Homo sapiens: one gene and its partner. The protein of the gene in region 2 purifies or fractionates together with the protein of the main gene of each other region. This does not show direct contact. Each region holds a gene or a part of one and is shown on either strand. Other genes may lie near its edges.

What was found. Proteins that work in one complex are often made in the same cells at the same time.
Region 1: the proteins of WDR81 (region 2) and CIB2 purify together in Homo sapiens (co-immunoprecipitation; one large-scale study listed by IntAct). This does not show direct contact.

Annotation. Positions count from the first base shown.
Region 1 is NC_000015.10:78,107,446-78,110,945, reverse strand, and holds part of CIB2 (calcium and integrin-binding family member 2), read left to right. Parts: intron 1-1,436; coding exon of another isoform or gene 1,437-1,563; coding exon 1,564-1,711; intron 1,712-3,500. UniProt on the Homo sapiens protein: Calcium- and integrin-binding protein that plays a role in intracellular calcium homeostasis. Acts as an auxiliary subunit of the sensory mechanoelectrical transduction (MET) channel in hair cells.
Region 2 is NC_000017.11:1,736,895-1,739,085, forward strand, and holds the end of WDR81 (WD repeat-containing protein 81), read left to right. Parts: intron 1-470; coding exon 471-791; 3' UTR 792-1,691; downstream 1,692-2,191. UniProt on the Homo sapiens protein: Functions as a negative regulator of the PI3 kinase/PI3K activity associated with endosomal membranes via BECN1, a core subunit of the PI3K complex.

The DNA of each region.
Region 1 (3,500 bases), on a different chromosome or scaffold from region 2:
CAGGCCATGGGCTTGTGCTCATTTGCTTGTCCCTTTGTTAAGTGGCCCCAAGCCTGCTGTAGTTGGCAGACCTGTGTCTGCTTTGTTAGATAACTTTTCTGTCTCCCCGTTGTCTGGCTGTGGCTTCTCACTGAGGTCAGCATGGTGGTCATCCATAGCATCATTTCTCAGACTTTAACGTACCTGTTAAAATTTAATTTTAAACTCCCCAGGGATCTTGTCCAAATGCCAATTCAGGCTCAGTACATGTGGAGTAGAGTCAGGATTCTGCTTTTCGAGCAAGTTCCCAGGTGAGACTGATGCTGCTGATCCTCAGACCATATATATCTGAATGTTTCGTTTCATGAGTTCCTTATCCATAATATGTAAAGTGCATTCAGCATTAAGAAGGCATTTGGGGCACAACTCCCCATTGCAGTGGGACTTCGTCAGTAGCCCCTTGCCAGGCCTGGGATGTGTGGCTTGAAGGTGGAGTCAGAGTGCTATATGGCATCCACTTGGGGCCTGCACTCTGGTTGTGACCTCAGTCCTGAGAGACAATGGGCCCCAGGCTCAGCCCTGGACCAGCACCCCGTCTGGCCCAGCAAGGGGCTCAAGAGCAAGCTCAGAGGGTTGCTGGAGCAGGTGAGACACTCATGGGTAGGACCCAAGTGGTCTGTCTCTGAGCCTCCCGCACTGGCCTGGGCTGGGCACGGAATGGCGCTAGCCAAGCGCTAGCTCAGTTGGGATGGAAGGGCTGCAGGATGAGTGATTTGGGGATCTAGGAAGGCATCCGTGTACAGCTCCCTGGGAGAGGCAGCATCCAAGGTGGTCTAGGGGAGAATTCACAGGAGCAGAGTGACAGCAGACCTGGGCCTGAACTGGCTGTATGGCTCTTGCTGCTTGACTGGTCCAGTTATCTGACCCCACATCCACCTCCCACGATCCTGGCCTGACACGGCCTGAGCTGAGGGCCACCAGTGCCCTGGGCTGTCATCTTCTTCTGCTGGGGACAGAGCCCTACACATCCAGGCAGAGCCTCTGTGTGCTCTTCTGGGTAACAGGACGAATCTGTGCTTCTGCTTCTGCTTCAGATGAGGCAGTGCCTCCAGTGATAACACACTGGCTGTGCTCAGCATTTTTTTTTTTTTTTTTTTTTGGAGACATGGTCTTGCTCTGTCGCCCAGGCTGGAGTGCAGTGGGACGATCATGGCTCACTGAAGCCTCAAACTCCTGGGCTCAAGTGATTCCTCCACCTCAGTCTCCCAAATAGCGGGACTACAGGCGTGCACCACTGTCCCTGGCTGTGCCCATCTTAATGATGTGACATGACCCAGTAGAATGCTTCCTGAGCTCTTACATGTGCCGGGCCTGGTACCAACACCTTACATACTTTAGCTCATTTAATCCCATCACAACCCAATTAAGAAGGTGTTATTATTATTCCCTTTTTACAGATGGGGAAACCGAGGCTCAGAGGGATTTGGTCACTCCTCCAGGGTCACACAGGCTGTCCACAGTCTGGCTCCGGGGCCCTCCTGCTTATCCTGCACCCACAGTGATTGCTGTGTGTGTTTTCTTCAGGAGAATCCCTTCAAAGAAAGGATCGTGGCGGCGTTTTCCGAGGATGGTGAGGGGAACCTCACTTTCAACGACTTTGTGGACATGTTTTCCGTGCTCTGCGAGTCGGCTCCCCGAGAGCTCAAGGCAAACTATGCCTTCAAGATCTATGGTAACCAGGGCTAGAGGAGGGGGCCTGAATATGCGGTGGGGGAACATGTGGGGCCCTTAGGCTGTCTGGTTACTACTGGCTCCTGCCCTAGGGACACCAAGAACAGTGAAGCTGATCTGTCCTCTGAAGAGTGCCTGTCCAGTGGGGTGGCCAAGGGAGACGATCAGTCCCTGAGAGACATCTGTGAGGGTCCTGAGAACGAAGGAGGGAGGGACTCACCCATCCCAGGTCGGGTGGTTAGTGTGAGAGGGGTCCCAGGCATGACCTTTAAGCAGGGACTAGCAGAGGCTTGGACTGGAGAAGAGGGGGCTGGCAGACCTGACAGAGGGCGCAGCCCATGCAGACACAGGGAAGCGCAGAGCTTGATAAGGAGATGGGAGGAACTTGGAAGGTGGTGGGACAGGGGGCGGTATGAGTCTGGAGAGAATCTGGGGCCAGGCTGTGGGAGCCAGCCACAGAGTTTGGACCTAGTGATCCAGACACCAGGGCCACTGCAAGGTTTCCAGTGAGGAAGGGCAGCTCTGTTTTCTAGAAGGATCACTCAGCAGCTTTGAGGTGTAAAATGGAGGAGCCAGAGAGGCTGCCTAGGCCATGGTGGTAAGGCCAGGCCTGCAGGGGGGCCTCTGGAGCCCCCCCGAATACTGCCTGAGGTAGGGCCACCTGGATTCACCCCGCCCAGCTCTGCCCTCAGGCTGGCTGTCTCACCAGCCACCAGAGGGCGGCGGGCACTCATGAGCCAAGGACTCATGCTTCTCCCACAGCCACAGGGAGAAAACTTCATACCCACGAGCTCACCCCCTCTGCTGGCCTGACAGACCCATGGGGACTGGTGTCAAATCCTCAGATAGACCTCAGTTGAGATGCCTAAGGCCTAGGAAGGGGCTGGGACCCAACTTGGACCTGAAGAGTCAAGGTCAAAGCTCCTGTCCTCAGCACGTTTGATCAGACACTGGATCCCAAAGGCAGCAGGGCCTATCAGGGGCTGACATTTTGCTTTCTTTTTTCTTTTCTTTTCTTTTTTTTTTTTTTTTTTGAGACAGAGTCCCACTGTCGCCCAGGCTGGAGTGCAATCGTGTGATCTCGGCTCACTGCAACCTCTGCCTCCCGGGTTCAAGCGATTCTCTTGCCTCAGCCTCCCAAGTTCAAACGATTCTCCTGCCTCAGCCTCCTGAGTAGCTGAGATTACAGGTGCCCGCCACTACACCTGGCTAATTTTTGTAATTTTAGTAGAGATGGGGTTTCACCATGTTGGTCAGGCTGGTCTCGAACTCCCGACCTCAGGTGATCTGCCTGCCTTGGCCTCCCAAAGTGCTGTGATTACAGGTGTGAGCCACCACGCCCAGACTGACGTTTCACTTTCTAGTTATCATGTTTATTTCAGAGGACTTTGGTTTCTGTCTGTGCACCCACGTTTTGCTTGCATATTAGAAAGAAAATACCTGCCAGTCTGCCCTCCACAAACTATGCCCACATGGCTCATGTAAAAAGCTTCTCAGATTCCACCCAACATCCGCCCGGTCTTGGACCCCATAGCATTGCTCCTGGGACGGGCTGCTGTCTGCCCAAGACAGGGGCGTGCAGATCGCATGGACCGGGTGGGCACAGGAATACATGGAAGAACTGTGGCTTCCTTGCTGCTCTAGGCTGGGGGTGGAGTGGGGAGAGGCAGCCAGGGCCCTCCTAGTCTGGCGCTGGGGAGGCCTGGGGCCTCATTTGCAACAATGATCATCTCACTTCTGAGCCTCAGTTTACTCAGGTTAAATGGCCACAGGAATTCAGCCAGCCAGCC
Region 2 (2,191 bases):
CCCAGGGAACCCTCAGCTCAAGGTGCCCCCAAATTCTAACTTTCCAAGAAAGTGTCAGGAGGGCTCTGGGGTCAGCCTGGGTGTTAATCCCAGCTCTGCTGCTTGCTGGCCCCATGACCTTGGTATGGTTACTTCACTTCTCTGAGCCTCACTTTTCCTGTTTGTGAAATGGGGACAATGGCAGCATCCACCGCATAGGGTTGTTACGAAGGTCAAGGTCGTCACGTGCACGCCTGGCACCATGCCTGTGCGTAGTTCTCAAGTTAGAGTGACGACTGGGTTACGGATGCTGAGCGTATTAAAATGAACCAACGTGAATATGGTGTGTGTGGGAGGGTGGCGGCTTGTCACCCACCCAGGACGGCCTGTCTCCCTGGAGAGAAACTGCGGAGGGAACTGGGAAGGCCTTGGGGCCCAAGGGTATGCAGAAGGACCCAGGCTCCTGCTGAGGCTCTCCTCTCCCGGGACAGGCGGTGGAGGGCAGCGTCCTGGTCAGCTCCTCCTCTGACCATTCCTTGACCGTCTGGAAGGAGCTGGAGCAGAAGCCCACCCATCACTACAAGTCAGCATCCGACCCCATCCACACCTTTGACCTGTACGGCAGCGAGGTGGTCACTGGCACCGTGTCCAACAAGATTGGCGTCTGCTCCCTGCTTGAGCCACCCTCGCAGGCCACCACGAAGCTCAGCTCTGAGAACTTCCGCGGCACGCTCACCAGCCTGGCCTTGCTGCCCACTAAACGCCACCTCCTGCTGGGCTCAGACAACGGGGTTATCCGCCTCCTGGCATAGACTGAGGCAGGAGCTGGCCGGGCAAGGGTGGGAAGACATCTGCGGGCGCGTGTCCACTCACCCTGTTCCCTGAGCAGCAGCTCCCTCCAGGGAGGCCCTGGGTCCCACGCCCTGGGTGCCCACATGGCCTGCCAACTAGGGCCTGCAAATGGAGTGGGGGAGTCCTGGCCCCTGAATCACCAGAGCCACCAAGCCTGCCAGAGGGGTCTCATTCATGGCTTGGGGACACAGGGCTCCTAGCAAGCAGGAAGTTAAGAGCAGGAGGAAGCGTTGCTACCTTCACTTCTCCCCAGCTCTGCCCTCTGGGTCCACATGAGGACAGGGAAGCTCGGGAAGGGGAAGGGAGACTGGCCCTGCCCAGCCGGTCTCTAGCCCCTCAGCCCCCGCTGGGCACTCTCTGTCCCATCCCTCTAGGACAGGGAAGCTGGCCTGGTCCAGGGCACTGATGGTGCTTGGATTCCAGCCTAAGGAAGGCTGGCCGTGGTCCAGGAGTTAAGGGCTTGGGTCTGGGGTTTAAGTGGCCACCCATCCAGGCCCTGGCCAGTGTGGGACCGGGACGGGAAGGAAGAAGGAGGCTAGGAGCAGGGGGAAAAGGTGCACTTGGCCAGTGGCGCCTGCCAGGAGTGAGTCCATGCGTTGTCTGCCCACCCCTACCACAGTGTTTGTGCCTTCAGCTGAGGGGGCAGCCTCTGGGCCCTGAACCCCTGCTGGGGCTCCACGACCCTGAGAGAAGGGGTGAGAAGAATCATCTCTGCACCTCGGGTCTCTGCCAGAGGAAGACTTAAGCATCCCTGCGACCTCACATTCTAGACAGAGATGAGGTCCAGGGGTTGGCCCCTGCTGCCTTCTCACAATTTGCAATAGATGTAAATAGGACCAATAAATCCTTTGGAAGAGCCATGGGGTGAACTGAGGCTTGTCTTTTTTTTTTTTTTCAATAGAGATGGAGTCTGACTATGTTGCCCAAGCTGGTCTCCAACTCCTGGGCTCAAGCGATCCTCCTGCCTCGGCCTCCCAAAGTGTTGGGATTACAGGCATGAGCCACCACGCCCAGCCTGAGGCTTATCTTGCTGGTGGTGTCAGGGTGGGGAAAGTCGAGACCCAGCAGTTTCCAGGACAGTGAGGGTGGGAAGGGGCCTGATGGAGGGAGTGAGGAGCAGGACAGTGAGGGTAGGAGGCGGCCTGATGCAGGGAGTGAGGCGCAGGACAGTGAGGGTGGGAAGGAGCCTGATGCAGGGAGTGAGGCGCAGGACAGTGAGGGTGGGAAGGAGCCTGATGCAGGGAGTGAGGCGCAGGACAGTGAGGGTGGGAAGGAGCCTGATGCAGGGAGTGAGGCGCAGGACAGTGAGGGTGGGAAGGAGCCTGATGCAGGGAGTGAGGCGCAGGACAGTGAGGGTGGG